4 linked regions of the Homo sapiens genome follow. The protein of the gene in region 4 interacts with the protein of the main gene of each other region in a pairwise test. Each region holds a gene or a part of one and is shown on either strand. Other genes may lie near its edges.

Evidence for each region.
Region 1: the proteins of RNF32 (region 4) and EXOC6 interact in a two-hybrid assay, tested with the Homo sapiens proteins (one study listed by BioGRID).
Region 2: the proteins of RNF32 (region 4) and LOXL4 interact in a two-hybrid assay, tested with the Homo sapiens proteins (one study listed by BioGRID).
Region 3: the proteins of RNF32 (region 4) and BLMH interact in a two-hybrid assay, tested with the Homo sapiens proteins (one study listed by BioGRID and IntAct).

What each region holds. Positions count from the first base shown.
Region 1 is NC_000010.11:92,914,063-92,922,049, forward strand, and holds part of EXOC6 (exocyst complex component 6), read left to right. Parts: intron 1-1,695; coding exon 1,696-1,851; intron 1,852-5,919; coding exon 5,920-5,988; intron 5,989-7,987. UniProt on the Homo sapiens protein: Component of the exocyst complex involved in the docking of exocytic vesicles with fusion sites on the plasma membrane.
Region 2 is NC_000010.11:98,250,518-98,258,504, reverse strand, and holds part of LOXL4 (lysyl oxidase homolog 4 precursor), read left to right. Parts: intron 1-337; coding exon of another isoform or gene 338-340; coding exon 341-524; intron 525-700; coding exon 701-855; intron 856-1,557; coding exon 1,558-1,725; intron 1,726-2,765; coding exon 2,766-2,928; intron 2,929-4,708; coding exon 4,709-4,952; intron 4,953-6,036; coding exon 6,037-6,152; intron 6,153-6,802; coding exon 6,803-6,939; intron 6,940-7,328; coding exon 7,329-7,440; intron 7,441-7,987. UniProt on the Homo sapiens protein: Catalyzes the oxidative deamination of lysine and hydroxylysine residues in collagen and elastin, resulting in the formation of covalent cross-linkages, and the stabilization of collagen and elastin fibers.
Region 3 is NC_000017.11:30,267,702-30,275,688, reverse strand, and holds part of BLMH (bleomycin hydrolase), read left to right. Parts: intron 1-1,491; coding exon 1,492-1,647; intron 1,648-2,789; coding exon 2,790-2,948; intron 2,949-3,060; coding exon 3,061-3,128; intron 3,129-4,300; coding exon 4,301-4,418; intron 4,419-7,987. UniProt on the Homo sapiens protein: The normal physiological role of BLM hydrolase is unknown, but it catalyzes the inactivation of the antitumor drug BLM (a glycopeptide) by hydrolyzing the carboxamide bond of its B-aminoalaninamide moiety thus protecting normal and malignant cells from BLM toxicity.
Region 4 is NC_000007.14:156,671,194-156,678,037, forward strand, and holds the end of RNF32 (RING finger protein 32), read left to right. Parts: intron 1-4,502; coding exon 4,503-4,670; intron 4,671-5,101; coding exon of another isoform or gene 5,102-5,182; exon of another isoform or gene 5,183-5,225; coding exon 5,226-5,462; 3' UTR 5,463-5,937; downstream 5,938-6,844. UniProt on the Homo sapiens protein: May play a role in sperm formation.

The sequences.
Region 1 (7,987 bases), on a different chromosome or scaffold from region 4:
TACCTGTCTGTGGCCTTTAGGAACCAGGCCACACAGCAGGAGGTGAGTGGCTTGCTAAAGAGGATTACTGCCTGAGCTCCGCCTCCTGTCAGATCAGCGGCATTCGATTCTCATAGGAGCGCAAACTCTATTGTGAACTGTGCATGCGGGGCATCTAGGTTGTGCACTCCTTATGAGAATCTAATGCCTGATCATCTGAGGTGGAACAGTTTCATCTGAAACCATCCACCTGCAAAAAAAGCCTGGGGACCACTGCTCTAGGGAGAACAAAAGGACTAAATAGTCAAATAAATTTTGGAAACCTGAGTTAAATAAAGTTAAGCGGATTTCTTTACTTATGAATTGTAAATCTCCTAGGAGGAGGATACAATATGTAATATTTATATAACTCATTTGAACTTAGAACCCTTTTTTCAAGGAACATCTGTTTTTACTGTGTGAATTGTTAGTTTTGTGCATAACATAATTGGGAAACAATACTCTAAATAAATGATTTTATACTCTGAGGACAGAAAATCATTGACAAAATTAGTTTGGGCACAGAGGGAAAGGGAATACACAGGAGTGATAATAATTTTCTCCAGTACCAGCCTCTAGGGGGCAGCCAGGATCAAAGTCTAGGTAAGAGAGGAGCCAGATTACTGCAACTTGCATGGTCTGATAACCTAAGTGTAGAGAAGGGCTGATTGGCAGTTACATGTGCCTTAGAGAGAACTCACCTAAAATAGCCAGTGCACGACCTTTCTATGTGCTAACAGAACAAAATAGCAACAATCTGACCCATCAAAACAGAGAGAATGTCTCGCAGTGTGTAAGGAAATTAAAATCCTGGAATTAAGTTTATATTTTTTTCTATTTCTGGTAATGAAGTTCTGATAGGGAAGTATTACTAAAATGCCTAAAAGTATGAGGGTTCTCAACTTTTTATTCTGTGTAAATGTTGTTTTTTGTCAATGATCAATTGTGGGATAACAGCTTCTACATTCTTAGTCTTCACAAACTGTGGGCATTTTCAGTGGGAAGTAAAATAAGCTTGCAACTTGATGTTATAGTTCCTTCTGTGAGGTTAATGGCTAATTCAGGAAGTTGGGAGTATGGCCAAAGAGTGTTGGCCAGTCCCCCTTGCCAACACACAATATGCCAACTGAGGAAATACATGGTTCTACATAATTTTAAGACTGTTTAAAAAGGAAGAGAAGCTGGGTGCGGTGGGTCACACCTGTAATCCTAGCACTCTGGGAGGCTGGGGCAGGCGGATTGCTTGAGCCAGGAGTTTGGGACCAGCCTGGGCAACATGGCAAAACCCCATTTTACAAAAAAATACAAAAACAAAAAAAACAAAAAAACAAAGAAACATTAGCTGGGTGTGGTGGTGCATTCCTGTAGTCCCAGCTACTCTGGAGGCTGAGGTAGGAGGATCACTGCAGCCTGGGGAGGTTGAAGCTGCAGTGAGCTGTGATGGTGCCACTGTACTCCAGCCTGGATGACAGAGTGAGACCCTGATTTTTTTTTTTTTTTTTTTTTTAAAAAAAGGAAATGAGAAGGCAAAAATCATGAATAAGAAAGGAGACATCACTACAAATTCTATACCTACAGACATTAAAAAGATAAAAAAAAACTATGAACAAATTTTTTGAACCAATTTTGACCATAATCAGTTTTGAAATAATCTGAATTTCTCTCTCTTCAAAATAGGCACAGCATCAGAAAACCTTCAGTGTTTCTCTGCAGAAACAAAATAAAATGAAATTTGGGAAAAATATGTATATAAATCGTGATAGAATTCCAGAGGAAAGGAATGAAACTGTATTGAAACATTCACTTGAAGAAGAGGATGAGAATGAAGAAGAGGTGATAGGTGTCTTTCTTTCTTTTCTATTATTAGATAATTTTTTTTCTTTTGGATTGTAATGTACATCTGTGTGATTTAGTCTTCCTGTATGCAAAATAAATTTATGTTGTAAAAGTTGTCAGAGTCAAAATGGAGTCAGTGTGTCAAACTTTGACAAAATGGAGGCTGAGAAGGCCGTGAAGGGAGGGCTGTCATGGACGATTAGCCTGGTATCAGGAGCTATCACAATAAATTTTTTGAAACCATAGCTTACTGCATCAGCCCTACAAGGACAGCTAGCCGCTTACATGTGAACACTTGTCTGTTTCAAAACAGGCCAGGCACAGTGGCTCACACAGGTAATCCCAGCACTTTGCAAGGTTGAGGTGGGTGGATCACTTGAGGCAGGAGTTTAAGACCAGCCTGGCCAACATGGTGAAACCCTGTCTCTACTAAAAATATAAAAATTAGCTGGGCATGGTGGTGGGCACCTCTAGTCCCAGCTACTTGGGAAGCTGAGACATGAGAATTGCTTGAACCCAGGAGGTGGAGGTTGTAGTGAGCCGACATTGTGCCACTGTACTCCAGCCTGGGAGACAGAGTGAGACCTTGTCTCAAAAAGAAGAAAAAAAACAAACAACTATCTTACAAGGTCAATCCAAAACTGTAAGGGCCTAACCATAACTCCAAAATTACAAGTCCTTTCTAGCAACTAGTGACACTCACCAGTGAACTTTCTTTCAAAACAATTTGCATAACAATCTGTCTCCCCGGTAAAACCCTAACCTCCTTTGTTCTGCAGACATGCCAGAGACCACCCTGGTCTGTGCATGTCCTGGATTTTAATCCTATTTCTTTGTTTATTCTCAAATAAATTTTTTTGCTAGGAAATTTTTCTGTATATATTTTTATTTCAAGTTGACAAAGTCAGTCAGATTGTATTGAGCTATTAGGACAATGGAGTCATCTGAAATGTTGGGCTAGATAATTGACAGATAAACATGATTGTAGATTATATTCCTAAATCTCTGGTAGTGGAATCTGTAGAAAAAGTGTAAATCTAATTTTTCTTTCTTTTTTTTTTTTTTGAGACGGGTTCTCACTGTGTCGCCCAGGCTGGAGTGCAGTGGCGCTATCTTGGCTCACTGCAACCTCTGCCTCCTGGGTTCAAGCAATTCTCCTGCCTCAGCCTCCCAAGTAGCTGGATTACAGGCATGCGCCACCATGCCCGGCTGGCTAATTTTTGTATTTTTATTAGAGACGGGGTTTCACCATGCTGGCCAGGCTGGTCTTGAACTCCTGGCCTGGTGATCTGTCCACCTCGGCCTCCCAAAGTGCTGGGATTACAGGTGTGGGCCACTGCGCCCAAATCTAATTATTTTTATAGTGATTACTTATATTTGAATTACCTGTTGTCAGATTTTTATTTCGTAATGTCTTGTCATTTGGCCTAATTCTGGATAGTCTACCTATTTAAAAAATTGGTGCTGAAATACTACAAAAATAACTCTACTATGATTAGTCTTTTAATGGAAAAAAAAAAAGTTCTAGTAAGTCTAGAAACCTTGAAATTATCCTTAAATATTTTCTTTCTTTCATCTTCTATATCCAAATTCATTCTCTCGTTCTTTTTTTCTTTCTTTTTTTTTTTTTAGAGATAGGGCTCACTGTGTTGCCCGTGAGTGCAGTGGTACAGTCATAGCTCACTACAGCCTGCAACTTCTGGGTCCAAGTGTTCTTCCCACTTCAGTCTCCCAAGTAGCTAGGACTAAAAGCACACTATCACCATGCCTGGCTAATTAAAAAAAAAAAATTTCTTATAGAGACAGAGGTCTCACTATGTTACCAAGGCTGGTCTTGAACTCAGATTATCTTAGCCTCAAATTATCCTCTCACTCAGCCTTCCAAAGTGCTGAGATTACAGGTGTGAGCCACCATGCCCGGCATCCTATTGCTTTCGAAAGTTTTTTCTACAGGGCTTGATGCCGTGGCTCATGCCTGTGATGCTAGCACTTTGGGAGGCCGAGGGGGGCAGATTGTTTGGGCCAGGAGTTTGAGACCTGCCTGGCCAACATGGCGAAACCCTTTTCCTACAAAAAATACAAAAAAATTGCCAGGCATAGTGCCTGTATTCCCAGCTACTGGGGAGGCTGAGGTGGGAGAATCACCTGAGCCAGAGGAGGTTGAGGATGCAGTGAGCTGTGATCATGTCACTACATACCAGCCTGGGTGACAGAGTGAGACGCCCATTTCAAAAAAATAAATAAAATTATCTCCACAGAATCTTCTATTGAACTTACCTTTTATCGTCCTTTTCAATTTTTTTTTAAATTTAGCTACTATCATAGGAACCTTGTTATTCCCAATTAATTTATAAGTTTTGCCTTGCCAATGAGATTTTAAATTCTTTTTCTAAGGACATAATTGGGATGCAGTAAGAATTTTTAGTTGAACCATACGACTATGTGCTCATGACTGCATTTGTGAATGGGTGAACAGCTGAGTGTTTACTATGTGCATTTCTTTTTTTTTTTTTTTGAGACAGGGTCTTACTCTGTCACCCAGGCTGGAGAGCAGTTGGCATAATCATGGCTTACTGTAACCTCAAACTCTTATGTTCAAATGCTCCTCCTGCTTCAGCCTCCCAAGTAGTTGGAACTACAGGCACATGCCTGTATATACTATATCCAGCTAATTTTTTTATATTTTTTGTAGAGATGGGGAACTGCCGTGTTGTCCAGGCTGGTCTTGAACTCCTGGCTTCAAGTGGTCCTTCTGCTTTGGCCTCCTAAAGTGCTGGGATTGTAGGCGTGAGCCACCACACCCAGCCACTATGTACATTTCTGCTGTATATCTGAGGATGAGGTGATACATATGTACATAGTCACACAAATATATATGTAGTATATATGTAATATATTTGTGTGAATATGTATGCACATATGTGTATGTGTGTATATATGTGTATATATGTATATATATGCGTATGTAGTGAATGTCTGCTATTGTACTGAATACAGACAAATGAACAGCTTCAAACAGTTAAATGCCTTCCTAATGTGGAATTAGTATGTCCTGATTAGTCCCTTGAAATTATTATTAGGTTTTTTGTCCCTTTAAATTAAATAAATATTTTTGACCTCTGCTTTTTTGTTCTTTCTAAATATTCAGAGGACCTCTGTATTATTTTCTCCTTTGAGGTTCAGAATGTTGAAAATAGACCATCTAGTCTTCTTACTTCAATTTTCCCCTTCCTGTTCTGTATATCTTTCCTGCTGGGAGCATCACCATCATGCCTTACCCCCAGACCTTTACATTTAGAGGAGCTTGGTGGTTTCCCTGTTCTCTCAGATCTATTTTACTACTATACTGCACTACATTTTGTTTTTATCATTTTCCCTAATAAGCAATGTTATAGTAAAAATAATTTAAGTTCACTCTGGAGATTCACATGAGTACAAATGTGTTCCTTTAAAAAGGGTTTATGTATTTCTCAAGTTTGAGAAACTTTATAGTACTACATTTCATCAATTGTAAGGCATTTTTTTTTCCACATAACATTTCAGAATATAGGATACATCTTAAAGATGATGGTGTTATAGTTTTAAGTGGTGGTGTTTTTTCTTTCTTAGCAGTCTGTAAAATAATACTGATAGTGTCTTTAATTCAGTGCAATAATGACCAATCATATGACATAGCTGCGTAAGAACAGGAACTTTGTCTATAGCCAAATCATGAAATCTGTGTATCATTTTTACCCAAAACAATAATAAGGTATCTAGTTATCCATAGCAGTTTTCTGTAATCTATCATACATATTAAAAATATACAATTTCTCTCCTTGGTTACCTTAAGTTGAAAACAGTCCACAGTGATAATAAACATACTACAAAGAATAAACTGCTGAAGAAATGCCAAAACAAAATAAAGAAGGTTTTGCGTTTATAGTGTATGCTTTCTATGGGGGAATTGAATAAATGTTGTAACACAAAGTTCATGAATCTTCTTGCCTATCTTTAACTTTACATTATCTAATGGTGGTCTAATAGTTTGACCTATAATTTTTTTAAAAATGGTTTAATTTTCAGATCTTAACTGTTCAGGATCTTGTTGATTTTTCCCCTGTTTATCGATGTTTGCACATTTATTCTGTTTTGGTAAGTATGTTTTATATTTATGTATATATAGCTTTATATTATTTAAAAGGCATGTATGTATTTTAGGCCCTAAAAATTGATCATATGCTGTAAATCTTCACATAATTCTTTGTGAAATATCCACTCTGTGTAAGGCACTTACATTTTTTGTTTACTTATCATAGTGTAATTTCAAGTGATATACCATTTCATGTATATTTTAAGAACCTTGTAATAGTATACTTCCATTTCTCCCTATTGCCTTTGTGCTGTTGTTACATCACAGTTCTTATAAGTTACTTTTACATGTGTATTCCATACTACATTGCTCTTATTTTTGATTTAATGTTCCTTTTTAAAAATAACTGCTTTATTGAGATCTAGTTCACATACGAAAAAACTTACCCTTTTAGAGTATACAATTCGGTGGTTTTAGCATATTCACAAGGATGTGCAACCATTACCACTACCTAATTCCAGAAATACCCATTACCCACCCCTCCAACCACCCCCAAAACATCAAAAATGTGTATCTGGCTGTTATTAGGTGGTGTGTTCTATAGATATTTGTTAGATGTAGTTGGTTTATAGGGTTGTTCACGTCTTTTACTTCCTTGTTGGTCTTCTGCCTATTCTGTTATTGAAAGTAGAAGTATTGGAGTCTTCAACTATAACTGTTGAATTGTCCATTTTTTCTTTCAGTTTTGCCAGTTTTTTATTCATGTATTTTTAGGGCCTTGTTGGCAGGTGAATATATGTTTATAATTGTTATGTCTTCCTGATGGATTGACCTTTTTTAAAAAAATCATAAAATATCTTTCTTCATAATATTTTTTGTCTTAAGGTCTGTTTGGCTTTAATTAGTATAGCCACTCCAGCTTTCTTCTGAGCACTATTGGCATAGCATGTTTTTCCCCATCCTTTTACTTTCAGTCTCTTTGTATCTTTGAATCTAAAGTATGTCTCCAGTAGGTAACACATAGTTCAGTCTGTTTTTTTAAATCCAGTCTGCTGATCTCTGCCTTTCAATTGGAGTGTTTAGTTCATTTACATTTAATGTAATTACTGGTAAGGTAGGATTTATGTCTGCTCTGATGTTTGCCATTTGTTTTAACATGTCTTATATCTTTTTTGTTCCTCTATTCCTCCATTAGTACTGTCTTGTGCATTAAATAGATATTTTCTTATGTACCATTTCATTTCCTTTGTCATTTCCTTTTTTTTTTTTTTTTGTGCTGGAGTTTTGCTCTTGTTGCCCAGGATGGAGTGCAATGGCATGATCTCAGATCACTGCAACCTCCGCCTCCTGGGTTCAAGTGATTCTCCTGCCTCAGCCTCCCAAGTAGCTGGGTTTACAGGCACCCGCCACCATGGCCAGCTAATTTTTTGTATTTTTTTAGTAGAAATGGGGTTTCACCTTGTTGGCCAGGCTGATCTCGAACTCCTGACTTTAGGTGATCCACCCGTCTCGGCCTCCCAAAGTGCTGGGGTTACAGGTGTGAGCCACCTAGCCCAGCCTATTTTCTTAGTATTAGCCCTGAGGATTGCAATTAACATCTTACTTTAAAACAATTCAGTTAGATTAATACCCTTTTCTTTGTGCTATTGTTTTCTTTCTTTCTTTTTTTTTTTTTTTGAGATAGGGTCTTGCTCTGTCACCCAAGATGGAGTGCAGTGGCGTGATCACAGCTCACTGCAGCCTTGACCTCTTTGGGCTCAAGCGATTCTCCCACTTGAGCCTCCCAAGTACCTGGGACTACAGGCTCATGCCACCATGCTTGGCTAATTTTTGTATTTTTGGTAGAGGTAGAGTTTACAGTATAGTCTTACTGTTTTATGCTGTAAATTTAATAAACTTTCATTAGCACAATAACTTCTGGCTGGTATATATAACCAAAAATTATTTGGTAAAGCTAATTTCTTTCTTTTTTTTTGAGACAGAGTCTTGCTCTGTTGCCTAGGCTGGAATGCAGTGGTGCCATCTTGGCTCACTACAACCTGCGCCTCCTGGGTTCAAGCG
Region 2 (7,987 bases), on a different chromosome or scaffold from region 4:
TAGTGCCACACTGAGATAGCCTCGTGAGGTGGTACAGACACCTTAGTGCCACACTGAGATGGCCTTGTGAGGTGGTACAGATGCCTTAGCGCCACACTTGAGACGGCATCCTTGATGAGGCTGTGGGGGTGATTGGTCATTGAAGAAATGGAGATCAAGAAAAACAGCTTATTCAGGGTGACAGCTATGGGAAGTCAGAAGCAGGACTGGAACTCCCCATCCTTGGCTCTGGCCACCGCCATGGAACTTGAAGGAGCCCCGTTGGGGATCCCGCTGTGGGGGCTCAGCCCCTGCTGGTGCCTCCTCCTCAGCCGTCCCTGAAGCAGGTTTCTCCCAGCAGGAGCCGAGGGTGCGCCTGCGCTCCGGGGCCCAGGTGGGCGAGGGCCGGGTGGAAGTGCTCATGAACCGCCAGTGGGGCACGGTCTGTGACCACAGGTGGAACCTCATCTCTGCCAGTGTCGTGTGTCGTCAGCTGGGCTTTGGCTCTGCTCGGGAGGCCCTCTTTGGGGCCCGGCTGGGCCAAGGTGAGTGAGACAGCCTGGGAGGGGTTAGAAGGCCTGGATATGCCACTGGTCCATGTCTTGAAGGCCCTGGGGTGACAGGGCCAGGACAGAAAGTTATCCCCCTCTGTGAAGGGGAAGCCACAAGTGTGGGGTTACGGAGATGGAGCCTCGCACACAGCACCTCTCTCCCCATCTAGGGCTAGGGCCCATCCACCTGAGTGAGGTGCGCTGCAGGGGATATGAGCGGACCCTCAGCGACTGCCCTGCCCTGGAAGGGTCCCAGAATGGTTGCCAACATGAGAATGATGCTGCTGTCAGGTGCAATGTCCCTAACATGGGCTTTCAGAATCAGGTGAGTTTGGGTCTGAGCATGGCCTCAGGCTGGGGGCCGGGAAACCCTGGGGAGTCCCCAGGACACCACATCGAGCTAGCGGGGAGAGGTCCAGGAGGAGCGGCTAGCGCTTCTGCTTTGGGCACCAGTCTGCCTTCCCTTAGAGCCGACCTGGCTGCAGCCCCTCCGAAATGTCAGAGGCCACAGGGGCTCTGCAGATGGATGTGCTCTCCCATACCCGTCTCGGGTCCCCTGTGAAGCTGAGAAAGAAGGTGCCTGGGAAAGAGGGCCACAGGGCTGTCGGCACGAGGGAGTCTGTGTGGGATGCTCAGGGCAAAGTGTCAGTGCTAACATGGACTGTGAGCAAGTCACTGGTGCCACTGTAAAATGGGGTTCACGCTCTCAGGGGGTCACTGTGAATGAGGCAAGGGACATGAAAGCCCTTTGCAAATTGCCAGTTGTCGTTAATGGTGGAGGGCAAGTGCCAGAGCAGGAGGAGCCCCTGGTCCAGGCACTTTGAGTCAGATTTCTCTAGCAGGCAGGGACATTAGAGACTACCTGCTACACTGTCCTCACCTTACAGAGAAGGAGACCAAGGCAGAGAAGGGGACTGTCTTGTCTAGGGTGACACAGTGAGCTGGCTTGGGCAGACCTCCAGGCTCGCAGCCCTGAGCTCTTCCCTGCAAGGCTACCCCACTCCTCACACACCCCTCGCCATTGCAGGTGCGCTTGGCTGGTGGGCGTATCCCTGAGGAGGGGCTATTGGAGGTGCAGGTGGAGGTGAACGGGGTCCCACGCTGGGGGAGCGTGTGCAGTGAAAACTGGGGGCTCACCGAAGCCATGGTGGCCTGCCGACAGCTCGGCCTGGGTTTTGCCATCCATGCCTACAAGGTAGGTCCCTCTGTTGTTTCTTCCGTATGACCTCTCACCCTCCTGTTCTGAGGCCCAAAACTTCCTGTGCTAAAGCTGCTGCCTCTTTGCCCATTTGGCAATTCATTACTGAGTGAAACTATGAGCCGACATGATGCTGAGTGCTGGGAACAGTGTGGTAAACAAGAAGACATAGTCCTAATGAAATCGTCAATGAGGGACACATTTGCATCTGCAGGAAAGATGAATAGAAATTAGTCAGACAAGGTGGAGGAGGAATGAATAGCTTATGCAAAAGCCCTGTGGCCAGAGAAAGCTTGATTCAGCTGAGGAAATCAGGGCCAGGGATTGTAGTGTGGCTCTCTCTCGAGAGTGCTGTCAAACATGAGGGCAGAGGAGGCAGGGGCAAGATCACTCAAAGCTTGCAATCCACATGTTTGAAAGATTTCTTCCTTTGCTGTTTGGAAAACGTTGGGTGGAGATTAACATGAATGCAAGGAAACACACTCAGGAGGCTATTGTAGTAGCCCAGGTGAGAAATGAGGCTGGACTGGACCAGGTAGTCCAGGAGAAATAAGTGGATAGATCTAAAATACATCAAAAAATAAAATCAAGAGGACTTAGGCATGACCGCAACAGAGAAACCTCTGCACTTGCACCCACACTGGCTGCCGCACAGTGTGGACTGGGCAACCCTGAGCACAACTGACGATCTGGGCCGCTTGAGGAGCAGCTGGGGAAATGTGAGCACAGCCCCCAGGGAGAGGGGCGGGGAACAGGACCCTCCTCTGCCATCTGGAAGAGAGAGGGGTGTAGGGCCAGTAGTGGAAGCCACGGTGGGTGGATTTTTACCTCCATATGTGGTGGGGATTTCTAACATCAGAAGGGTCCAAATGTGTCATGGACTGCCCCAGGGAATTCGGGTTCTCATCACTGAAGATTTTCAGGCCCAGGCTGGACACAACCCGGTGGGGGTGGTATGACTGAGGCCACACCTCAGATGGGAGTCAGGAGGTGACTCCAAAGGCACGCTGACTGGGTGACGCTGGCTGTCTTCTTAGGAAACCTGGTTCTGGTCGGGGACGCCAAGGGCCCAGGAGGTGGTGATGAGTGGGGTGCGCTGCTCAGGCACAGAGCTGGCCCTGCAGCAGTGCCAGAGGCACGGGCCGGTGCACTGCTCCCACGGTGGCGGGCGCTTCCTGGCTGGAGTCTCCTGCATGGACAGTGAGTGACGGAGGGCTCACAGGGCTGGGGACAGGTAGGCCTGTGCTCCCCTTCAGGGAGGGCCCTGCATGCTGGTCCCAGGTCTATGGCCAGCAGCATGGGGGAATGAAAGTACCAGCTCTGCCATTTCCCAGCTGTGTGGCCAAATCACCCATCCCATCAGGATCCATACCCTGCCCCCTCACGGAGTTATTGTGAGAAAGAACACTGAGAACATGAGGAAGCACAAGGACACGGAACGGCGGTTTTCAACTTTGGGTTATGACCAACAGTTACAAACAATGAAACAGGACAGAAAACAGCAAGGGCAGTTTTTCCTTGGAACTATGTGTATACTGGGTTACAGCATAAAATGTATTTCTTACTGTGGTTTGTAGTCAGAAAAGCAGTTTGAAAGCTGTCGTAGAGGACATACAAATATGAGCACACCCGGGGCCAAGGCCCAGCTGTGTGTTCTCTTCCTGAGCTGTGGGATTTACCCAAAAAGACTTTGGGACAAGGCCATCTGTGGCATTGCTCTGCCCCACAAACCCAGATTCTTAGGGCAGCAGCATCTCTGACATCTCCCAGCCAGGTCAGTGCCAAGATGGACTATATCCAGCCCAAAGGTTACAGATAGCATCAACCCAAGTGGCCACTTGACCTTGTTCGTGGCCAAATTTCGACACCAAGATATCCTTCATCTTTGTCAGTGAGCTCCTGGCTTCCTCTCTGTCCAGGGCACCCTGGGGAGAACACTGGGCCCATCCATCAGACCCTCCCCTGCAGGGATGGGGCATGAGAGTGGACCTCCCCATCACCAAGGCCTCCCAGCACGTGGGGAGCCTGCTCCTCACTTGACTCCCCTTCCTGGGAACCTCGAACCCCTCCCTGCTCCACTGCCTACAGTGGGAGCGCTCTTCTTGAACACATTTGATCCTTCACGACAACTTGGCACAGTCAGCCAATCTGCAGTCTCTGTAACCACCTGTTTTTCCTCCCTGGCTTTTCACATTGCTTTCTTTCCTTTACTCTCTCTTCTCATTCTCTCTGAAAGCTCGCCTTCTTTCACCAAGAAACTCTAGGTTTGTCAGTGGGCACTTCCTGGCTCTCTCCAATATATACCACAGGACCCTACATGGCCAACTGCCAGATGCAGATGGCTCCAGCCTGGGGCAAGCTGCGGCCGGCCTGCCCAGGTGGCATGCATGCTGTGGTCAGTGGTGTGGCAGGGCCTCACTTCCGCCCAGGACTACTTTAGTGATAGTGATTTTTAGTGACAGTACAGGCAAAGTATCCAGGTTAGGTATCAGCAGAGCTTTTTGAGAGGATTATATGAACTAAGCTACATAAAGGCACTTTACAGGCTTAAAAGCATTTTACAAAATAAATACTAGCTTCAACTGCATGTTTACTTAGGCCAGACATGTTACAGGTGTCATCAGATTAATATCACCATTATCTTCATCTTACAGATGATGAAAATGAGAGACAAAATGGTTAAGCAGTTATAGAGCTAGTGAATTATACAGTCAGAAAGTAAGCCAAGAATGAACCCAGGTGGCCTGGCTCCAAAACCAGCAAGCCTAACCATGACACTGTAGCTGCCTCCCAGGTTAAGGTGATAGACTTCCTTTAAATGTTATTAGAACTCACCATCTCCTGACTCTTAAAACTGCCCTTCTTTTGTGGGGTCCTCTCGGAGGGTTTAATCTGGGGGCAAGCTTGCCCTCTGTGCTGGAGACTAAGACTGGCTGCCTTTCCACCCTTTGAGTCACTGCCATGCCCTCCGCCGCCCCAGGTGCACCAGACCTGGTGATGAACGCCCAGCTAGTGCAGGAGACGGCCTACTTGGAGGACCGCCCGCTCAGCCAGCTGTATTGTGCCCACGAGGAGAACTGCCTCTCCAAGTCTGCGGATCACATGGACTGGCCCTACGGATACCGCCGCCTATTGCGCTTCTCCACACAGATCTACAATCTGGGCCGGACTGACTTTCGTCCAAAGACTGGACGCGATAGCTGGGTTTGGCACCAGTGCCACAGGTTAGAGCCTGCCCATGCATTGGCACTAGAGGGTTAGGAACAAAAAGCAGGGTCCAGGGAGCAGTTTGGCCCTTCCCTGGCCACAGGCAAGTTTTCCTGGGAGGGGTGTGCGCTCTCCTTGCTGGCCTTGCCTGCAGGAGGCAGTGAGGACAGCGGCATCCACCTGCCCCTCCATCGCTCTCGCCTTCACTATGTCAATGGTGCCCGTGGGGTCTGTTTCCCACAGCAACATCCCATAGAGGCGTCACCGCCAGCAGAGTTGTTCTGTTAGAATGGTATTTGACACTTTTCCTATGTTGGATCATAGGCCTTGTCTTCAGAAGCCAGGTAAAGTGGGGACTCCCAGGAACCTGGGGGCCCAAAATAGACATCCCATCCAGGGTGCTGGCTCTGCAGGAAAAGCTCGCTGATTCCTTCAGTAGTAAGGCAAGGCCCTCAAAGAACAGCATGAACAGACTGCCACTAAAAAAGTGACAATGAACATTCTTTCCTATCAGGAGCTTCCAGACCAGAGAGAGGGAGAGACAATGCCTGTGACAAAGGCAGAATTGTTTTTTCTTCTTCAGAACATAGCCACGGGTGGAGAAAGTGGAAAGGAATGGGCAATGACTTTGGGACTTGGTCTCGCCTGAGATAATAAGCACCTTTCCCTGTAGCATGAACAGAGCTGTCATTATAACTGGATTGGAAACAATGGTAGCAATTTGGTCCCAGGCTTACAGGGACCCTCTTCCCAGCAGGTCAGCTCCTAGGCTGCTCACAGACCCGGTGCCCCGCCTCTCCCCCCAGTTCAGGCCTTGCTGTCAGGCACCAGCCTCCTGGAGGCGACCAGAGCAGGGCTTCTACCTCTTGCCTGGGTTGAGACCCTAGGTGGTGGGGGCAGCTGTACTTGCTGCCTGGCAGGGGTGCCAGCAAAGGAGGCTGTGCGTCACACTAATCTCGGGTTTGGGAGGGAGAAGGGCACTGCCTACTATAACTTTCCTCTCGGGTCATGATGGGGCCTGGGGCCTGTCTTCCCTACCAGCCCCTCCAGAGAGGACCCTCTCCTGTTGCTGCCGCACTGACAGCTCTACCCCTTCTGCAGGCATTACCACAGCATTGAGGTCTTCACCCACTACGACCTCCTCACTCTCAATGGCTCCAAGGTGGCTGAGGGGCACAAGGCCAGCTTCTGTCTGGAGGACACAAACTGCCCCACAGGTATGTGGTTTCCTGTCAGCACCTATCAGCATCTCCTTTTGTTATGTTCTTCAGCCCCTTTGGGATCAGGCTTTCTCTCTGCCCTGTTCAGCAGCCCAGGGCACCTGGAGACCCTGGCTTGAAAAGTTAGCATTCAAGGCAATTTCTTACCTTCTGAAATCTTACGCAGGAGGTTTTTACTTCCTCTGAATTCCCCACGCATTGTTCTTCTTTTAAAACACTCAGCACTTTCCATCTTGGAGAAGAGTTGCAGACCTGTCCTATCTCTGCTGAGCTCTCCGAGGGCAAGCATTGCCTGCTTCCTGTCTGCACACCCACAGTCCCTAACCCTTAGGAACTGCATGGTAAACACTGAATCTTTAGAGGTTTGGAAGGATGGATAGGCGGATGCACAAGTAAATTAGCACGGGAGCGTTGGAATCTCCCAACCACAGTTCCTAGTTCAACAGGGATTTGCACTGGAGCAGTCAAACAAATCCTATCTTTGTCACAATGTGGTTTGCTATGGTGCTGGATTCACAGCAGGATTCTAGCTCTGACGGTCCTTAATCTGTGAACTGGGCATGATGACACTGAACTGGTAAAGGAAATAAAAGACCTAGCAGAGTGCTTCGTCCTGCCTCAAAACCTGTCTGTCCCCTTCCTTACAGGACTGCAGCGGCGCTACGCATGTGCCAACTTTGGAGAACAGGGAGTGACTGTAGGCTGCTGGGACACCTACCGGCATGACATTGATTGCCAGTGGGTGGATATCACAGATGTGGGCCCCGGGAATTATATCTTCCAGGTAAGGCGGCTGGGGGATTCCCCACAGAGCCTGATTTCCTCCAGATGTTCCACAACTTTCCCTGAGGGCAAATGAAGGGAAGAATTTCCCATACAGGGTTTCCGACAGGCCTGTCACTTAAAGGAGCTGTCCTGTTAGGGAAGTAACAGTCAAGCTGGGTCCAATGAACCTGTGTTTGAGTATTGATTCAGTGAACACTGGATAAATCAGTTTCTCAGTTGGGACTTCTCAGTCCCTATCTGTAAAATGGGAACATCAGTACCTACCTCCTGGGTAATTGTTAAGAATTAATGAAGCAAATAGAAACACATGTAAGGATTATCACAGCCACAGTCAACTCATTCAGAAACCAAATCACCCATTTTCAGTTGTCCCCTCTTTCACTCTAGGTGATTGTGAACCCCCACTATGAAGTGGCAGAGTCAGATTTCTCCAACAATATGCTGCAGTGCCGCTGCAAGTATGATGGGCACCGGGTCTGGCTGCACAACTGCCACACAGGTAACTCCGAGCCACTGTGGAATCAGCCATCTATAGGCTCAGGGAGCTGGAACACTGTAAATGTACCCTCTGCTCCCACACTCCAGCGTGTGACTTGTATGTGTGTGGTGTGCAAAAGGCTATGGATGGAACAGAGATGCATTTCCTTTGACATCTTACAAGGCAGACTTCTAGAACTGGTCAGACCATCGGCTTCACCCAATAACTACATCTTCTACATCCCTGTTTGCACTTAAGGCTGTTTGATTGTAAACTCAGTTTCCAATCTGTTCTAGAATCTTTCCTGTCACCTCAAGCCATGTCAGGATTTTCAAGTCCATTATTTTTCCTTTCTCTTTCATATAGAAGTTAGGGTTAGGGTCCTCACAGGCAAAAGTAGTCCTCTTGCTCTGTGTTGCTGTCTCCAGCTGTGATCACTGCTTGCAAGAAGGGGACCATGGAAAACAGAGCCACTTACAGGATTGGTAGCATCAGTCAAAGGAAGCATCATGATCCAGTGGGGGCAGAGAAGAGGGGCTGTTCTGTCAGTAAAGACTCCCTCTATCTT
Region 3 (7,987 bases), on a different chromosome or scaffold from region 4:
TTTGAGATGGAGTCTCGCCCTGTCCCCCAGGCCAGAGTGCAATGGCATGATCTCGGCTCACTGCAACCTCTGCCTCCTGGGTTCAAGGGATTCTCCTGCCTCAGCCTCCCGAGTAGCTGGGATTATAGGTACATACCACCATGCCCAGCTAGTTTTTTTGTTTTGTTTTGTTTTGTTTTCTTTTGTATCTTTAGTAAAGACAGGGTTTCACCATGTTGGCCAGGCTGGTCTCAAACTCCTGACCTCATGATCCACCTGCCTCAGCCTCCCAAAGTGCTGGGATTACAGGCGTGAGCCACTGTGCCCAGCCTTGTTTTTGCATTTCTATAAAATGAAAATAATATAAAGTATATCCTTGGATCGTAATGATGTTAACTTGAAGGTGTTGTGACATCATTAGAAAATATGTTGTCTCACAACCCAAAAAATTATACCTTATTACTAAAAGTCACTCCTCTTCTTTTTATTTTTGAGACAGGGTCCTCACTCTGTCACTCAGGCTGGAGTGCAGTGGTGTGATCTCAACTCACTGCAACCTCTGCCTCCTGGGCTCAAGTGGTCACCCCACCTCAGCCTCCTGAGTAGCTGTGACCACAGGCACAGGCCACCACGCCTGGCTAGTTTTTGTACTTTTTTTTTTTTTTTTTTTAAACCATGACTCAGCCCTCAGGAGATCCTGAGAACATGTGCCCCTAATTTTTGTATTTTTTGAGATAGGGTCTTGCTCTGTCACCCAGGCTGGAGTGTAGTGGCACGATCATGGCTCACTGAAGCTTCTGCCTCCTGGGCTCAAGCGATCCTCCCTCCTCAGCCTCTTGAGCACCTGGGACTACAGGCATGAGCCACCACGTCCAGCTAATTTTTTTCTTTTTTAAGATGAGGTTTCACTATGTTATCCAGGCTGGTCTTGAACTCCTGGGTTCAAGGGATCCTCCAACCTCAGCTTCCCAAAGTACTGGGATTACAGGCATGAACCACTGCACCTGGCCCTCCTCTTCTAGTAATACTTTTAACAGGCATTGTCATCCAACTCCAGCTGAAAAATTAGTTACTTTCCTATGACTAGAGACCCCTGTTGTAATAAGGAAAACATCAATGTATAAAGGGAAGGAAATCCATTTATAAAATTTGTCATTTTTTGGTTACTTGAAAAATAATCAGAGCAGCAACTCAGATCTTGCTGGGTATCAATGGTAGACAGATTCTTGGCTAAGGAAGTTTAAATTTTCAGGACAAGTACTAAGCACTAAATGTTAACATTTCAGAATCGCATTGTTCACAGTGTTTATTTGAGAACTCATAAGTTGACTGATAACAAATCTCAGACATCGGCTTTCCAGTTTTTGACGCAGTATTAGATTTCTTGTGAAATTTTTAGCTTGAATTTAGCCACTAACTTCTTGTGTTTCCTAAGCTTAAGGAAAATGAAGAGGTGAAAAAAATAACATTTCCCCCTAACCATTGCTCGCCTTTCCTCCTCCTCTCTTCCAGATATTCCGAGTGGTGTGCATCTGTTTGGGTAATCCACCAGAGACATTCACCTGGGAATATCGAGACAAAGATAAAAATTATCAGAAAATTGGCCCCATAACACCCTTGGAGTTTTACAGGGAACATGTCAAGCCACTCTTCAATATGGAAGATAAGGTTGGTGAATGGCACTGGTAGTCACTGGCTGTTTACTTTCAAATGGCTGTTAACCACAGGGAATTGTATAAGATTCTTGGTTAGCATGTATGAGTATCAAACTAGACAGCAAACAAACATTTTTCCCCACTTCCTCTGAAGTATTTTATGCAGCTAATGAAGTTGGTGGTGCCAGGATTTATCAGCTTTTCCACAATGTTCCTCTTCAGAGACTTTTTAAACTGTAAGCCAGCAGTCATTTTAATTCCCACATGCGCCCCTGTATAGGACCAGAATCATTCTCAAGTGCAAAACAATGAAAGTGTGTTGGGTATTTCTTATCGTGGATTCAGAGCACTTTTGCACTGAGGTCCCCTCGGGGAACTCTCCTGTTGAAGGGAGTAATCTTAGTTTTTCCTGTTCCCTTTAGGTCTTCCTCATCTGCCTAGTAGGAGGATCAGAGCCTCTTCCTTTTATTGGCTTCTTGATCCTCTTCCAAGCAGATGCCTGTCTTGTAACTTGAGAACAGGGGCCTTGTGATTAGCTCTCCAATTTTTCTTACTCAGTGCATGTTATTTTTCAGAATGAGTTTTGAGGGCCGGGTGCGGTGGCTCATGCCTGTAATCCCAGCACACTGGGAGGCTGTGGTGAGTGGATCACCTGAGTTCGGGAGTTCGAGACCAGCCTGGCCAACATGGTGAAACTCCGTCTCTACTAAAAATACAAAAATTAGCCAGGCATGGTGGCGCACATCTGTAATCCCAGCTACTTGGGAGGCTGAAGCAGGAGAATCACTTGAACCTGGGAGGCGGAGGTTGCAGTGAGCCGAGATGGCGCCATTGCACTCCAGCCTGGGCGACAGAGTGAGATTCTGTCTCAAAAAAAAAAAAAAAAAAATTGCTTTTGGAGCAGTTCTTGCTAGTAGGAAAAACAGGTAGATGCACCTCCTAATTGTGTCTCTTACGCGAATTAGAATAAGCAAGGACCTCTCTCACATGTATTTTGCCACCTTGTGTTTCTTTGTTACTTAACAATGTGGCTGTAGTACTTAGCTTGTAGGCAGAGATGATGAGCTTGATGGAAACATGAACCTAGAGGAGAGCTGTGTGTTGCTTGACATTCCTGGTTTTGTGCCCTAATTAATGTGTTCTTGATCTTGATAGATTTGTTTAGTGAATGACCCTAGGCCCCAGCACAAGTACAACAAACTTTACACAGTGGAATACTTAAGCAATATGGTTGGAGGGAGAAAAACTCTATACAACAACCAGCCCATTGACTTCCTGAAAAAGATGGTTGCTGCCTCCATCAAAGATGGAGAGGTTGGTATTGTTTCTGTATTTTGCACATTGGGGTTAAAACATCTTTTACTTCTTTGGTATAATAGGAAGATGGGGTTTATGTTGACTTTCTTCCTCTTTCTTCTGTTTCTAGGCTGTGTGGTTTGGCTGTGATGTTGGAAAACACTTCAATAGCAAGCTGGGCCTCAGTGACATGAATCTGTGAGTGCAGGAAATTTAAAATGGAAAGTCATTTGTGGGTTGTTGCTGTTGGAGTGTGCTGTTGGTACAAAATGACTCTGCCGAGGTTCATCCAAAGATGAAGGTTGACCTAAGGGCGCGTCTCTTTCTTTGCATCCTTTAGAGTTTGAGGACTCATAGCAGAAACTCCACATACTTAAACACTCTAACCCAGGACATCAAAATCCCACTTTCTATCTGAGTGGAAATCGTTGGGCGTTCCTAAAAAGCCATCCTCTATGAGAAAGACACTTTAAAAAAATAATTGACTATTGCGGAAATGTGTTCAGTGCATTTGGGAGTGTAATGAAAGATTTTCCAGAGCCCCCGTTTGCTATGTTACTTTGGTAACTTTGTATTTTGTCATTGTGACAAGTGGGACTAATTTGCATGCATACTTTATAGCATTCCTCCTGGTCATTTATGACAATGAAGGTTAATTTGTAAACTAAATCATATAGGATTCCTTGACTGTTCACCATTCTCTATTTTAGGGTTACTTATAAATAGTTGTTACTTGTAGGAAGTTGAGTAAATATCTTGATAGAGAAATCTGCTAAAAAAAAGAATTAATGAGGTTTAAAAAATTTTTGAAAACAGGTACATGCAACTCCCAAGTGTGTCTCTCACACTAACTAGAACATGCAAGGACCTCTCTCACATGTATTTTGCCTTTTGTTTCTTTGTATTTAACAATGTGAGTGTAGTGCTTATGCAAAAATATTCCCCAATATTTTGGACATTATTTATTTAAATTTTAATCAGCAGTGATTTAAATGAATTCAGAAACTGGTTGGTTCCACCAGCTCAAAAGAGATCAGTTTTCTAAGAAGTTACTTCAAACGCTTTTTTCATTATTTTTTAAAGTTTTCTTGCCTAAATGACAATGTAAACTTGTCAGCTTCTGATGTGGAGAATTTATGTTTAATCATCTCCTTTTTTTCCTGCATACTCTTGTGACACATAGAGAATGGACTCCCACTGAGAGACTAAGTTCTGCATGTTCCATATTCTTTCTGAAGAGCTACAGCTAGAGCCTTATTTATTTGGAGCTGTTGAGCCCCTTCAGTTTCTTCTGAATTCCTTTTACAACCAAAAGCCAGTTTTCCCCATGATCGTACTCCCTTTATTTTGTACTATCATTCTTTTTACAGCTATGACCATGAGTTAGTGTTTGGTGTCTCCTTGAAGAACATGAATAAAGCGGAGAGGCTGACTTTTGGTGAGTCACTTATGACCCACGCCATGACCTTCACTGCTGTCTCAGAGAAGGTATGACCCTCAGCATGCCTGCTGGAGTGTTTGCACAGATGGATCTACATTCTCCTGTAGACTGTTTACCCAACAAAGCTTCATTCATAGTGTATATGATTTCTGTTAAAAGTTAGTTTCCAAGTAAGACATCGTACCTGCGTCACTTGGGGCTTGGCTGCGTGCTTAGAGGTAATATAAAAATAGGAACTTTCTATGAGGAGAATTTGGGTCAGCAGGGAGCGACCAAGTAACTGTTTCTGTAACTTTGGAAGGTCATGGTTTAAAGAGAAGTCAGCAAGGGAACTTGAGAGAAGATAACTTCTACTTTATAAGGAATCAAAATGTGCCCTGAAAGTGTTCATATCTTGATGACCTATGTTCAGATTTCCCTTCATTTGTCATTCAGATTCTTTTGCAGTAAAATGTCAATAACAGTAATTTGTGGACTCCATACCCATTTCTAGTTATATGCAGAGCTTCAGGAAATTGGATGTAAAGTATTTTGAATTTCCTGTGAAATAGTGTGTATAGTAATACCACTTTTTATAGGTTATAGAGTTGGAAACAACTGAAATTTTATCTTTCACAAATAAACTCCTCACTTCCAGTCAGTAAAAATAGATATTTTCACCTCTGTGCTCAGGATCATCAGGAAGGAAGAACTTGAACTACTTTAATTCTTTACCACCACAAGCAAAAATATTCTTTCTAGCCTAATTCCTGGAAAGTCACAGAATAACTACCTTATATAAATTGTTCTAGAAAATCATTTTTTTTTTTTTTTTTTGAGATGGAGTCTCACTCTGTCATCCAGGCAGGAGTGCTGTAGTGTGATCTCAGCTCACTGCAACCTCCACCTCTGGGGCTCAAAAGATTCTCCTGCCTCAGCCTTGCGAGTAGCTGGGATTACAAGTGCCCGCCAACACACCCAGCTGATTTTTTTGTATTTTTAGTAGAAGTGGGGTTTTGCCATGTTGGCCAGGCTGGTCTCGAACTCCTGACCTCAGGTGATCTGCCCGCCTCAGCTTCCCAAAGTGCTGGGATTACAGGCATGAGCCACCGCACCCAGCTAGAAAATGGTTTGATAGAGAATTGTTTTTGCTATCCTATCCACTAGATTTATGATCTTTAAAATGTTTAGAAATATCTTAGCATATCATTATGCCACATTTTCCTAACTAGCCTATCTAAAAGTCCTGATTTGCTTTTTATACTCTATGCAGAATTGTGAGTGGGATGGGGTTTTCTTTCTGTACCTTTTTCTCACCTCTTCCAACTACTTCACTTGAAGGGTGCCCTTTCAACCCCACAGCATCTAAGATCCCTGTGCTCTCTCTGTATTCAAAACTTGGTCTTAAAGGTTTAATTACATTCCTGCAAATTATAAGGCTAGTGCTTTAAGTAGTAGAACTCTGAGGTATTCTCAGTTTTATATGAGATCAAACACAGTATGGTGTAAAGGTGCCCTGAACTTAAGAGGCAGTCTTAATGCTGATACTCCTGATCCTCATGTAGTTTTCATAAATAAATGTAAAGGTTGAGGTCTTGTAAACCAGCGAGCTGTTTTCCTCATTATTCCATTCGTCAGTAATCTCAGCTCTGTAGTTAGCGAGACTCCCACACCAAGAAACAGGTTTTTAGGGTTACCCAGGAGAATGTGTGGAGTATAATTTGCATTACTTATGTAGATCAAGAAAAGTCATTTTAAAACAGCAAAAGGTGATTTAAGTGTTATCACCCCAATTTAACAAAATTCTCACATTTGAATTATAAACAAAACATAAAGTTAGGTTATAAAAGGAATTTTAGACCGGGTGCAGTGACTCACACCTGAAATCCCAGCACTTTGGGAGGCTGAGGCGGGAGGATCACCTGAGGTCAGGAGTTCAGGACTAGCCTGACCGACATGGCGAGACCCTGTCTCCACTAAAAATACAAAAATTAGCTGGGCATGGTGGCGTGCACCTGTAATTCCAGCAGCTACTCTGGAGGCTGAGGCAGGAGAATCCTTTGAACCCGGGAAGCGGAGGTTGCAGTGAGACAAGATTGCACCACTGCACTCCAGCCTGGGTGACAGAGCAAGACTCTGTCTCAAAAAAAAAAAAAAACAATAAATAAATAAATAAAATACATGAAAAGGTTTTTCAAATAAGGGTGCTTTATAACTAAACTAAAGTTCTTTAAATAAATTTTTAAACTATATAGAGTTCTGTTTTGTGTTTTTTTGTTGTTGTTTTTTTGTTTTTTTTGAGACTGAGTCTTGCTCTGTCGCCCAGGCTGGAGTGCAGTGGCACAATCTCAGCTCACTGCAACCTCCACCTCCTGGGTTCAAGCTATTCTCCTGCCTCAGCCTCCTGAGTGCAGGCGTGCACCATCGGCCTGGCTAATTTTTTTTTTTTTTTTTTTGTATTTTTAGTAGAGATAGGGTTTCGCCATGTTGGCCAGGCTGGTCTTGAACTCCTGACCTCAAGCAATCCACCTGCTTCGGCCTCCCAAAGTGCTGGGATTACAGGCATGAGCCACTGTGCCCAGCCGAGAATTTGTTTTGTTTGTTTGTTTGTTTTTAAAAAAACAAACAAACAAAAACTTGTAATTTCCAAGAAAAATTCAGCTTTTTATCATTTCTATCTCTGTTATAGAATACTCCTATTTTTCAGGAATAAAAATAATGAATACCACTGTCATTTTCTTGGGAACTTCCATTCTTTGATTAGCATGGGTTGTTTCCTTAGGAAAATGGAGCTACCTTACATGCTAATGGTATAAAGCAGAATTTATATTATTATACCTGGAATTTTATATTGAACATTTTCTCTTCATTCCACTAGAGTTTTTGATCCCAAAAACGAGTTTGAACTACACTTGAGTAATAGTACAGAGGTAAATGCATACTAGTGGTTATATTTCCACAATTTTCTTTCTTTTGTTGCTGATATCATGGAATCCCTATAAGGGAGTTCCAGGTATTAATCATTTTGTAATTGTAGATGACCCAGAGAACAATTTGATCTAGGTCACTCCAGGAATTCATTGGCCAAGGGGAAAACATAGGAAACATTTTCAGACTTAGAGTAACAAGTAACTATATCACTTTAGGTGACATCGATTCTAACAGTGATATTTAAAAGGAAAGTAAAGTTGGACTACAGTGGGAGGAATAGAAAACCAAAACAGACATATAATATGCCAGCTGCAGAATGTATAGTATATAACGATATGGTTTTAAAGGATTTGGGGGCAAAGAGTAAGGATTAGTACAGGTAAGGGTGTGTGAAACTTGTGAGTTTGTTGGCGCTATTTGTGAGACAGAAAATTACTGAGATCCAAGAAAACTGCCAAGAGTGGAGTGTTTGGGTTAGCAGAGCCAAAGAGAACCAAATCCCATATAGATGAGACTCATCATATAGTTATTTGCAAGTGGGAGTTGACAGATGAAATCATTAGGCGATAATACAGGGGTGAGTGCTCTTCTCATGCTACAAAGATTTAAGTTGCCTTGACATCAGTAAATGTCCTGGGTAAACATGAAAGAAAAAAGTCTTTTCCCAAATGGAGCCTTCCTCTTGTCCCTCTCTGTGTCACTATAG
Region 4 (6,844 bases):
GCAGGGCAGATGGAAGACAGAGCAGGATGGGTGCACCGTTTGTCTGTCAGTAACAACACAAAGCGGACTGAGTGCTCCAGCACCAATCAGATTATGTATGTGTTACTCAGAAGAGATGCCTGAAAACGCGAACAGTGTGTGTGTGAGTGTGGTAACATATTATATGTACTATAATATACACATAAGCTCTTTACAGAAGAAGGCTGATGTGCTGATACCTGACGAAAGAGATTCTAAAGCAAAGGCATCATTAGAGATAATGGTGTAGAACACCACACCGAGCAACGGCAGCACATATTTTCTTTCAAAGTACAAATATATCATTATAAAAACTGACCATACGCTTGTCCATGATGCAGATGTCATCATAGGTCGAGACATTTATGTTTTATAAGTTCAGCTTCTAGATTCGGGGGTGCCTGTGCAGGTTTGTCACTGGGTGTACTGCAGGACGCCGATGTTTGCGGTACAGGCGGTCCTGTCGCCCAGCTCATGAGCACAGTCCCCAACAGTTAGTTTTTCAGCCCGTGTCCCTCCCCAGTCGTCCTAGTATCTCATGTCACCATCTTTATGTCCACGTACTTGAAGAAACTTAAGTCGTGTAGAGTATGTTCCCTGACCACGGTGCAGCTGAGGCTAGAAATAAATTTTTTTTAAAAAAATAGAACTATCTCACGTTTGAAAATAAACGGTTCTAAATAACGTATTAATCGAAGACAAAATTATAATGGAAATGAGAAGAAATTTCAGTTGAATAGCAAAAGTACATATCAAAACTTGTGGAATGGAATATTTCATCAAAACTTGTGGAAAGGAATATTTGCGTCTGCCATGCTAGGTTTTCTTCTGTGGAATCAAACACCTGAGTGTGGAATTAGTTTGTGATTCTTATGTATATTAAAATATCCTAAGCATTTATTTGCTTTCTTGCTATATTACACCAGTTACCATTAAGACTGGAGCACTAAGTGTTAAGGGCCACCCTCCCTGAGATTTATTTGGTATATATGCAAAACTGACAAGTCTGTTTCTTTCAACAAGTGCCTACTATGGTCGGTGCGTGTACTGAGCTCTTGAGAGGGTTTAAAGGCAGGGTGTGACGACGACAGGTGCAAAACCCTTTAAAAACCCTGGATGCTATTACCAGCGTTAAGAACAGTCCTGGCCCCAGGACTAATAAAGGAGATAGGACCTGTATGCCACAGTGACTGAGGCAGAAGGAGGCAATAGGTGACATCAGTATTGGACCTCAGGGTCTTTGTCATCAATAGGGCCACTTAGGAGTCACCCAACACAGTTGTTCAGAGCATATGAGCTCTATTTCCATCTAAAGTGTTTGAAGGAAAATGTACTTTAAAAAGTCCTAATGATGCTGTCTTTGGAAGTTTATCTTGAGCTAAGTAACTCATTTATGTAACATCAGGACAGCTGGGATTGCTCCAGGCATCCTGTAGAGAGAGCGATACACTCACGTATGATAGAATATATGCACACACAGGTGACACTGTAACATAAATGCATATAGATGTACATACATATTTATATGTGGCCCGCACACTTACTCTGTTCCTCTCTCAAGTGGCTTCTGAAAGCGCACGCACAGCGATACCCATGCTTGGAGTTGGGAGGTGACACCTCCAGGAATGATAACTAATGCTGTGTTAAATAACTTTGCATATTTAAAAATGTGATCGGTAACTTCTATGACCGTGGTTCTTAAACCTGAATGGGCCTCAGAATCACCTGGAGGGCTGTAAAGCATATCGCAGGGCTCACCCCGCGGACTGTGGCCTCGGCAGGCCCGGGGCAAAGCCTGAAAAGCTCTGCTTTTCTCACAGATTCCCAGGAGCTGAGGCTGCGGGGTCTGGGCCCCACCTTGAGAATAAACACCCAGATCATATCGATCATTTCATTCAATTGATCAGTCATTCCAAATAGTACTTTTATGTCCAAAACTAATCTCAGAACATACCTCACAAGTTGAAACACTTTGCAAGGTCTGGACTAGAATGTGACCCTTTTTCTGAGGTATAATTTTGAAGGAAGAAAAGATCTTGCTTTTCAGGCATATGTGGAAAGTATCTCACACTTAAAAACAATTTACAGAAAACCTGAATTACAAAGCATCAATTGGAGGTAACTGTGTATATTTCCAAGTAATTTTTCCTTTTACAATGTATAGAGAACTCTTCTACTTTCAATAATTTATTTAGATATTATTAGATATTTGAAAGGCCAAGGAATAAAGAAAATTAAAATTAAAGCCTTAGGAAACGTTACCGATTCAAGACCCTAAATTAAGATACAGCTGCTTGGCAATTATAATTACATTCAGAGTGAAAGAGAATTTGACTCATAAATAGAAAAGCAGCTTCCACCAGGCTTCCAAGTACGGCTAATCCCAAAACACAGGTGCCTGGAAGATCCTCAGCCACCCCCTTCATTCAAACCCCAACCCTTGTGGACTGCCTGCTGTGTTCACAGAATGTTCTTTACTCAAAAGGACCTCTCATCCTTAAAGCCAATACTCATTCTTCTAACATCCCAGGGAGAAAGGCAGCTCATAGTCTCCACAGCACTCGACCCTGCGCTGTCTCACGATCTTTTTGCAGAAGGGAGAGAATTGGAAGAGAACTCCATGTCCTCAAAGGCACCTTCAGAAGTCTGGTGATTTAAATACACACTACGTTCTGCCAGGTTGCTCCACATTAATAAAAAAAAAAAAAAAAGAAAAAGTGAACGTGAGGACTCCAGTAGACTAGAATATTTGAAACCTGGACAGTCATGGACCATCCAAAATGCATTTTCCCCATCACATATCTAAATGTGTGAGATCTCCACGGGACTTGTTCATTTCATCCTTCTTTGTGCTTCAAGCCGGATTCCATGAAGCAGATGTAACTGCTGAATCGGCACTTCTCACTGCTGGACAAATAACCCCCCGAATTTCAGTGACTGAAAGCCAGAGCTTCGGTCTCATAGGACAGTTCAGGTGTCCTGGCTTGCAGGCAACATGCCAGCCTGTGGGGCTCGGGAACTGTCTCCCTCTGCCCTTTATCTGCCACCCCCCGGGCCTGGAGAACACCCAGAAGAGACATGAGCCACGTCCATCTGGAAGAACTACTTCACGTGGCCCCACCTGGGCATGGGGGAATGGGAAATGTCATCTCTGGGTGAGCCACAGCTCTGTACTTGAAAGGACAAGCAAGAGGGCAGGAAGTGTGGCTGACAGTCACCATTGGCACAACCTTTTACACACCTTATTCTCCTTTGCTTTACACTCTTCACATGTACTAAAAAGGAGCCGCTGGTGTGGCCCTGAATGAGCCACCTACCCGTGCCTCAGATGACACTGGTGGCCACTCTGTAATGACTCAGACCTTTCTAGTGTAGGATGGCTTGAGCCCGGGAGGCCGAGGCTGAGTGAGCATTGATGGCCCCAAGCACTCCAGTTTGGGTGACAGAGCGAGATGCTGTCTCCACCAAACCAAACAAAAATACCAAAAAAAACAAAGTACTGTATTCAATTAATAAACGTTGAAGTGATAATATTTTGGATCTGTTGGGTCAGATACAATATTAAAATTAATTTCACCTTTTAAAAAACTTAATGTGACTGCCAGAAATTTTAAAATTACATACGTAGCTCACAGTATGTTTCTATGGGACAGAGCTGATCCTGCGAAATTCGAACTTTTCTCTCAACTTTTAATTTCAAATGTGTTCCTGCTAATGGTCAAAGCTCACAACCAAGAAAACAGCAGGGGAGGGAAACAATATACCCTTTTCCCCTACCCTCCTAAATTCTTCAGCTGGAGCCCTGTAAGTTAAGCTTAACGAGAAAATTACACGGATTTACTTAGTAAGTCCCATGTGGTATGGAAGCCTTCCTAAGGCAGCGCAGACCGGAAGAGATAGTGCAGACCCGAAGAGGCAGCGGCGACCCGAAGGGGCAGCGGAGACCCGAAGAGACAGTAACGCCTGAGCGCTTTCTATGCTAGGTTGGATGAGGACACAGAGGTCGTGGGGAAGCATGACAGGACAAGGGGTGAGCTGAGGGTGGTCGGTGGGAACCACGGCAAGGCCTGTGTGCTGTCTCCTCCCGGCTCCCTCCGTCTTTGGAGACGAGGGTGCCTCTCACAGGAGGGTCCTGTGACCCACTTTAGGGGTGGGGAGAGGTCAGACGGTCCCTCCTGCAGCTGTCATTTCTCAAATTCCTTTGGGAAGGAATGTTTTTTCCTTAAAATATTCAGTATGCCAAGGTGCCGTATTTTGGGGTAGTGTGTTCTGGACTCCATCAGATAGGGGTTCTTGTGGTCATCTGTCCAGATTATCTGGATTTATAGTTAAGTAAAATAGACATATATCTATTTCCCTAAAAAGTATTATTCGAAGACAGAGACGAGGAAGGTTACCAAAATAGATGGTCAGGCTCGAGAGCGCTTCCCTGCAACCTCCACCGAGCTCAGGTGTGAGCTTACCCGCCCCCGCCTCCTCCTCAGTTCACAGAAATCAGCCACCGCATCCTGTGCTCATACAACACCAACATTGAAGAGCTCTTTGCAGAAATCGATCAGTGCTTGGCCATAAATCGAAGTGTTCTTCAGCAGTTGGAAGAAAAATGTGGCCATGAGATCACAGAAGAGGAATGGGAGAAAATCCAAGTGCAGGTAGGTTTGGCTGGCAGCCTGGCAACCAGCAGACTCAGCTGCAGCTGCAGAGGCTGTGGGGAGTGGCATGTGGGGGGAGGTCGAGGACTCACTTTGGGGAGCCTAGGAGTGTCAGGCCCGGGGTGCAGCCGTGGAGGCTGTGGGGGTGGCATGTCGGGGGAGGTCGAGGACTCACTTTGGGAAGCCTAGGAGTGTCAGTCCCGGGGTAACCGCTGCCCTAGCTGCCCCTGCACCTGTGGTAGGACTTTCCTCATGGGCTTTAGGGTGACGGCAAAGGTCCCTTCAGTTTGAAATTCTGGAAGTTCCTGTTGGATGTTGCTTATCACAGGTGGGTTACTAACCCTTTCCACAGTTCCCAGGAGTAACAGAGTATATGTGTGTGTATATATATATGTATATATATAAATAAAATGCATGTGATTTTAACACAGAATGAAACTTCCGCATGTTTCGAAGACCCATGTCTCGGGGCACATGGTTCGCATTTCAGTTTAAGTAACTTTCTGCTGTGATGAAACTAACCCGCGTGGCCTCTTCCCGTCCTGTGTGCCGCAGGCTCTGCGCCGGGAGACCCACGAGTGCTCCATCTGCCTGGCCCCTCTCTCCGCTGCTGGCGGTCAGCGCGTGGGTGCAGGCAGGCGTTCCAGAGAGATGGCCCTCCTGTCCTGCTCACATGTGTTCCACCATGCGTGTCTGCTGGCACTAGAGGAGTTCTCCGTGGGAGACAGGCCTCCTTTCCATGCCTGTCCTCTCTGCCGCTCCTGCTACCAGAAGAAGATTCTTGAATGTTGAATTCATAGTCAAGGAAAGTTAGGTAATTCTGAGGAAAAAAGTTTACCATCATTTTGGATGAACTGCATGAGTTCTGGGTTAAGTACTACAATGTAATCTGTTTCCCAGGGAAATAAGCTATTGGTAGTTGTAGGAAATCTTAGTATATTTTAAAAGCTGACATCCCACCTAATTTTAATCTTTGGTCTCTAAAAAGTAAATTTCAAATTTATGAGTTTAATCACTTCAAATATGAATAGCAAAAAATGAGAGCTTGCTTACTTCTAAAAATTGAGGTTAAGATATAGCTAGTGTCTGAACGACACTCCTTAAAGTAAGTTCCAAATGTAAAACACTCCTTAAGTTCCAAATGTTTTCCGCTAATAGTCTGTCCTAAAGCCTTTGCCATTCCTAATACTCGTTTTGTAATAATTGCTGTATTTCTGTGTAATAAAATATAAAAATAAAATATTCAGTGGTATTCAACATCAAAAAAGTGCAAATTTTAATGTCTTAGAGCAATAAAGACTGTTTTAGTTCACACATTTTAAAAAAAAGTGAACCTTTTTGGATAAGAATTGTTTTTGTCACTGGTTTACTATTACTGGGAGCTTGGTTATTTACAGTAACCAGTTACAGTCTCATCGGTTAGGTTACCCCTAGCCGAGTAACAGATAAAGCCCCAACTCTCAGTGGCTCGCTGAAGACACATGATTTCTGAGGTGTCCAACCCATGTCAGCCATGGGTGAGGCAGGGCGAGGGTACACCATGTGTGACCCTGGCTCCTTTTGTCTTGTGACACAGTCTCCTTTGCCCCCGAGTCCCCAGTGAATCCTGTCACTGCTGGTGGAGGGGCAGGAGGACATTGTTCCAGGCCATGCTTGGGAGTGGCGCTCATCACTCCAGCCACAGTAACTACAAGGGGCAAGGAAAGGGCAGGGTGTAGGCCTAAGAGGAAGAGGCCAAGTGGGTGTGCACATGGCATGGGCTCAGAATAACCCAGCATCTAATGTGAGAAGAAATGCCAAAATTTCTATTTATTCTTATCTCATCCCTTAGAAAAAATACTCTCCTATGTTTTGTGATGTACACATTATATAGCTACATATGTATGTATCATTTATGAATAAATATGCATATATTGGGATGTGCTCATTTTTTAAGGATGTATACTATCAAAAAATTTGCAGACTAATTTGGAGAATGCTTTAAACAATGAGTAAGCACTTTTATTCTAAGAGAGCAGAGGGAAACTGAATCACAGAACCTCAATTTTCTGTAAGCTGACATCTCTCTCCCCATAGCGTTGACAGGCAAAGCACAGGCACGTGTCAAAGGCCAGAGCAGTCCGATTCCGCCGCCCTAAACTTTGGATCTAGAAGGAGAGTCCCGGAGATACATG